2 separate regions of the Homo sapiens genome follow, and region 1 is linked to region 2. The links come from fine-mapping of genetic effects on plasma protein levels. Region 2 holds a variant in brackets. A gene starts in the other region. All regions are shown on their reverse strands. Region 1 holds the start of FLRT2 (fibronectin leucine rich transmembrane protein 2). Region 2 overlaps LRP1 (LDL receptor related protein 1).

Evidence for each region. PIP is the posterior inclusion probability: the model's chance that the variant is causal. Protein levels are from antibody-based Olink assays in UK Biobank. Linkage for the fine-mapping came from a reference panel and not from the study's own genotypes, which makes the PIPs less certain.
Region 1: it holds the start of FLRT2, and the variant in region 2 is fine-mapped to the plasma level of the FLRT2 protein (UK Biobank, PIP 0.93).

What each region holds. Positions count from the first base shown.
Region 1 is chr14:85,528,605-85,531,503 of GRCh38, reverse strand. FLRT2 (fibronectin leucine rich transmembrane protein 2) reads right to left here and starts at 1,360. Exons shown (of 2, transcript NM_013231.6): 1 at 970-1,360. FLRT2-AS1 (FLRT2 antisense RNA 1) reads left to right here. Exons shown (of 2, transcript NR_184170.1): 1 at 1-2,887.
Region 2 is chr12:57,182,762-57,185,660 of GRCh38, reverse strand. LRP1 (LDL receptor related protein 1) reads right to left here. Exons shown (of 89, transcript NM_002332.3): 35 at 2,151-2,282; 36 at 1,752-1,886; 37 at 1,447-1,576; 38 at 1,209-1,335; 39 at 671-822; 40 at 456-580; 41 at 1-130. Among named protein-coding and RNA genes, the nearest start is that of MIR1228, 10 kb to the left of the region's middle. RefSeq lists a silencer at 2,550-2,599. The variant G/A (reference allele first, on the strand shown) is at 1,529.

The DNA.
Region 1 (2,899 bases), not on the chromosome of region 2:
TCAGTACCCCGACCTCAGCTTGCAACCTTGATCTTGGGCTTGATTATAAATGACGAAAGACCGCGGCAGCCTTCAAAGTGCGGGAGCGAGCCCCGTACTGGTCAGCGCGGCGGAGGGATCTTTCCAGGAGGCCCCAAGCCCCCAAGCCTGTGGAGAGACTTGGTAACAGCTGGCAAGGCCTGCTCCAGCCACCCTCGCTGGCTCCTTGCCCCTGCATTCAGCGCCTGAGGGCGTTATTCGCCCTCTCCCTGCGTCCCACGCAAGCGGCTCAAGGAACTCACTCGATCCGGATTCCGCCTCGTATGCTCTCCAAGCCTTCGCCACCTCCGCAGGCGCTCTAGAAAGGCGTGATGGCCCCAGCTCAGTGCCCGCCAGCCCGAAGAGGACAAGCAGGGCTGGAAGGGACTTGGTTTTGGAAAAAGCCCCACCCGCCCCCACCAACTGGAAGGAAAAGGAATTAGTATCCACCGCATCTGTTTAACTGCTAATAGATCCCAGATTACGGGCAGGTAGTAGGTTGGTGTCTTTAGATACAACAGCCTGATAATAACGCTGGTGACATTAACAACAGCTTGTGGAGGGGAGAGGGTTGTTACTGGTGAAAGTTAAGAGATTCAATCTAGGGAAGTAGGAGACTGAACTCTGACAAGGTTAGGGGCACTGAGAACCCCAATTTAGCATCGATGCATCTACCAGGCAAGAAAATTTGCGTTTTGACCCAGAACTCAGTCATGATGCTCCGTAGAGGAGGTGGATTCGACCAGCAGACAGATGTCCCCAAAGTCGAGAGAGAGCTAAGCTGCCTATTTTCTCTCCAGGTGAAAGACAAAGCCTAGAGCACCCCACTTAAGATGACCACCCCCAGCTCTTTCAAAAAAAAAAAATCCCCCGAAGAGACAGCGTGGTGCCAGCGTAGCAGCAGCTCGGCCGGTTACTGGAAACTTCACCTGGCAACGCAGCCCCTTTTACCTGACGGCTGCGTCTTCTCCTTGCAATGGGCTCATCCGAATCCGACAGGGTCAGGGAGGTGGAAAGGGAAGACGCTGGCGCGGCAGCAGCGGGGATCCCGGGGCATGGTATTGTTTTAGGGGTCGCCGCCGAGGTCCCTCCTGCCCATCGTTGAGAACTGCCACCCTGATCCCAGGGCTCGGTGGACACGGCGGCGGGAGCGGAGATGCCGCCTCGCCGCTGCTGGGCACCAGGGACGGAGGACCAGAGGCGCACCTCGGAAAGGAGTAGCTCAGCGCCTTGGCGCGGAGATTTGCGGGCACTGATGATATCTCGAGCGCTCGTTCCTCCGCGGTGACAATGGATAATGCCAAACGCGCAAGTGACGGCGACAGGTTTCGAACGTACAACTAACTACAAGGTACCCAGCCTGAGACAGTATGCTGCTTTTCCCCTCCTCCTCCTCTCCCTCCTACCAGGGAGGGAACTAACTTAACCCTGTGTGCGCCTGACACTCCCTAGAGAAGCTGGGATCGACTAGGAAACCGCAGGCAGCGGCTCCCGGGGGCGAGAGCTTTGTTCACGTGCGTTTCCAGTGGGTGTGTTGCTGTCTAGGGGCACTCGCGTGGCAAGACGCCCGTGGCTGGCTTCCAGCGCCCAAGATTCAAGGAAGGGAAGGAGCCCTAGCGTTTCATCCGGACCAGACCCAGCCCTCGGAGTCTATTTTTTGCCTCCAGTTACCGGATTTATTGAAGTTGCCAGCGAAGTTGGTTTTATTCCTTTACTTCTCTGCTCTCCGCCCCCGTCCACATCCCCCAACCCTGTATTATTTCCTGTCCTAGCTGCGCTTTAAAGATTCGGAACTTTTCACTCGTTCTAGCTACAGATTTTAACTGTGTTCCGTGTGCGAGACGAATTGTGGAGGGCACCCACCCACCCATGCCAAGTGTAAATGAAACCGCAAGAAAAGCTGCCTCCCACTCACCCATCCAGTGTCCGAGTAAGCCTAATGACACACATTCACATAACTAAGAAGACACGGGAAGATAGGGGTGCGGAGGACGGAGTTTGATGTGTGAATGGGAAATGGAGAGAGGGGACAGCGCGCGCGAGAGAAACAGCGCGAGCCTGAGCCTTAGAATGGAATAAACGGGAAACACACACAAGAATGACGATGCAAAAAATGTATCTAAGTCCCAACATTGACAGCAGAGGGTCAGCTTTAAGCGCCTACATTTTGATCCGCGAAATTTCCCAGCTTTTTTGGAGGCGGTTACATAGAGAACACAGGAGCCTCTGCCTTGGCCGCCCAGATGCTTTGCATTTTGTAAACAGCTTTGACTAAGTGCTCTGGACTTCCAAGAAGTTAACTGGAGTGGAAGGCGAGTCATATTGTGGATGCGGAATGGAAGCTTAGACAAGAAAAAACTGTCAGCAGAGCGCCTCTGCTCTCACCGTCACACCCAAATGAGCCAGGACGTCGCTCAGAGCGCAAACTGAGATCCACACAGGGACATCTTCAACCGAATCTTTCTTCTGTCTCCATTCCGGACTAAGGAAAGAAAGAAAGAAATACGGAGCCTTTATAGAGTATTCAGAGGCTACACACATGGATCTTGCTGAAACGGAGTTATTTAAAAACAGAGAAAGTGTGTTTTCCCATGAGATAGATGTTATAGTTTCTCTCTGAAACATACCCAAGTCTATGGGTGTCAATAATAGCCATTTCAAATGCCTCTCTGAGCCTTGCCAGCCCCAGAAGAGGCTGTGGGAATGCTGCTTCCAGCTTCCCCTGTGCAGAACTCCGTTGTAAATCCTTCTGAGTTTCCAAGGTGGCAGCAGAGCATAGGGATAGCTCCTCAAGCTCCAGCATCAACAAGGAAGATCACATTTTAGGACAAATACTCATCTACCTGCATTTAAACATCCATTTTCGTATGTAAGTGTACAT
Region 2 (2,899 bases):
GCATACTCGCGGCACGATGCTCCGTCTTCAGCCAGCATCCCGTGGGCACAGGCGCAGGCCCGCTGCCCACGGCCCCGGTACAGGCACAGCTGCTGGCACCCGCCATTGGCCACCGCGCACACGTTGGTGCCTGGGGGAGGGGAGGGTACAGAGGGCAGGGCCTGCCTTGGGAAAGGCTCACTGGTGCCTTTGTCATCCAGGCTTTGGCGAAAGCTCTGCCCTCTGCCTCGGTATTCCCAGCTTGAATGACCCTCCAGGGCCCAGAGTCCAATGCCAAGATCTGTCCCAGAGCACCTCAGCCTTTCCTCCCCATCCCTGGGTCTCTCGGGCCATCGGAAGTTGCCCCATGGGTCTAACTTGTCTCCCAGCCCTCTCACACTGGGTTCCCTGGGGAGCACTCTCCCAGGCCAGAGTCCCCCTCACCTCTCCACCCCAGCCCAGAGCCCCAGCCTCACCTTTCTGCCGGTCCCGGTTGAAGACTTTGATGTCTTTAAGCTGGACGCCGATGCCGGTTCGCAGGGGCACGGAGTCTGTGGCATTGTCTTTGCTCCCGCGCTTGATAGAGCCGTTGGCATGAGTCCTGAGGGAAGGACAGGGCACAAGCAGGGCATCAGTGGAGGCAGGAGGGAAGGAAGAGATCAGCTGAGGAGGCCAGGACAGAAGCCCTCACCTGTCACTCCAGTAGATGAAATCCTCAAACACAGACACTGAAAACATGTCCATGTTGTTGCTGGACAGAACCACCTCGCGGTTCTCACCTGTCTCCAGGTCGATCCGTTCAATCTTGTCTGTCCGTGCATCGCACCAGTACAGCTTCCCATCCTACAGGCCAGAGGCACCCACCTCACCTCCAGGGCTGAGCTCGCTGCCAGCCCCATGTCTGGGGCAGCAGGGAGTGCCTGGGCCAGAGTGAGGCCCTCAGTTCAGCCTCCCCTAACTCACTCCTGCCTCCTGCATACACTCCTGCCCACTGCCCTGCTGATAAGGTGACCTCCAGGCATCTCTCCACTCCCCCACTCCCCACTTCTGAGCGACCCCTGCCCATCATCTCTGTGGTAGCAGGAGTCCTACTCTGGGTGGAGGGCTGGGCTGGGAGACCCTGTGACTTCCCCTGGGCTCCAAGTCCTCCCAGAATGGGCTCATCACAGGGAACAGGAGCCTGGGTCAGGGGTCTACCATCGGATCCAAGGCCAAGTTGGCGTGCGAACCTGGTAGTCCACTGAGATGCCGTTGGGCCAGCTGATGCTGACGTTGACCAGCACCACACGCTCCGTGCCATCTAGCCGAGACCGCTCAATACGCGGATACTGACCCCACTCAGTCCAGAACAAGTACCTGTAGGGTGGGGGTGGAAGTGGGGGTCAGTCCTCAGACCCTGGAGGAGACAGGGCCTCATCAGCATGGGCCATGGGCAGAATGACAAGGCCAGTCTTTCCAGCTCCTCACCCTTTCTCCGGGTGGACGGTGATGGCCCGGGGCTTGTCTAGACCCTGGGAGATCACCACGTAGCGGAAGGAGCCATTGAGCC[G/A]GGCGACCTCGATGACATCAAAGCCCTGGTCTGTCCAGTAGATGTTGCCTAAGGAGGGAGTTGGTGGGGCTCAGGGAGGTTAGGTGAGGACAGGTGGACCTGGTGTCTCCAAGCTCCCAGGCACCCCTACAGCTCCTCTTCCTGCTCCCGCCAACTCCTCCTCTCACTTCGTCCCCCAGTCCTCTGCCACACCCCAAGCCCCACAAACCTGCCCACTGCTCACCTGCGATCCAGTCCACTGCAATGCCCTCCACACGGCCAATGCCATTGGTCACCACGTCTTCACGCCACGTCTGGTCCCGCTTGGCCCGGCTGATCGTGCTCAGGCCCATGTCCACCCAGTAGATGGTGTCATTTTCTGGAGGTGGAGGAGGTGACATGGGGATGCCCAATAAGGCAGGGGTAAGGTGAGGGGTCAAAATCTCACAAGGCTCAAGACAGAGGTGAGAGAGTGCCGGAGGGGCCAGGTGCTTGAAGGGGAGGTGGAGTCAGGGTGGCAGCTGTAGCAAGTGCCCCACCTCAGGCCAATTCAGGCAGCCTCTCACTGGACCCTCAGGGCACACCACACCACCCCTAAAGCTCCTACGCCACGCCCAACTCCCTCTGCCACCAAATGGCTCACCAGCGTGGAAGTCGATGCCGACAGCCAGCGAGGTCCCGGACACTGGGACCAGGGCATCTGACTTGTCATTGGGATCCAGGGGAATTCCCCTGATTCCCTCATGCACAGAGTACAGGAGAAAGGAACCTACGCCTGAAAGACAAGGAAACTTAAGGCATGGGTATCGCCAACACTCCCTTAAACTTGGTTCCTGTCACCCTCCAACTGTTCTCTGCTTCTCCTTTGATATCATCCCCCCCCACCATCATCCCTATCCTCCACCCAGCACACACACCCTAGCCTGAGGCCAGAGCATGGGCCGGGAGGAAGCGCACCTGGCTGGTAGCTCTGGGGAACCACCTGCAGGACCCCTAGCCACCATGAGAGGGCAGCAGAGACTCGGATTTCTCACCCTGTGCTCTGCCGGCCTCCACCCAGCACAACCCAACCCTGCACCCCTGCAAGTTCCTTAGGGAAAGTCTGGGAGTTCAGACCAGACAATCAGGACTAGGTGACTCCAAAATCTAGACTTCCAGTTTGGTGCTCAGCCTGATCCTAGTTTCCTCTTTGTCCTCCCTCTGTCTGGTCTATGCCACACCCTCTCTCCAACATCAAAAACTCAACCCCCTAAGGTCACTCCGAAGCCAGTCTCATTCCCAGTTATCCCATTTCTTTTTCTTTTCTTTTCTTTTGTTTTTCTTTGTTTGTTTTTTTTGAGACGGAATTTCACTCTTGTTCCCCAGGCTGCAGTACAATGACGCGATCTCGGC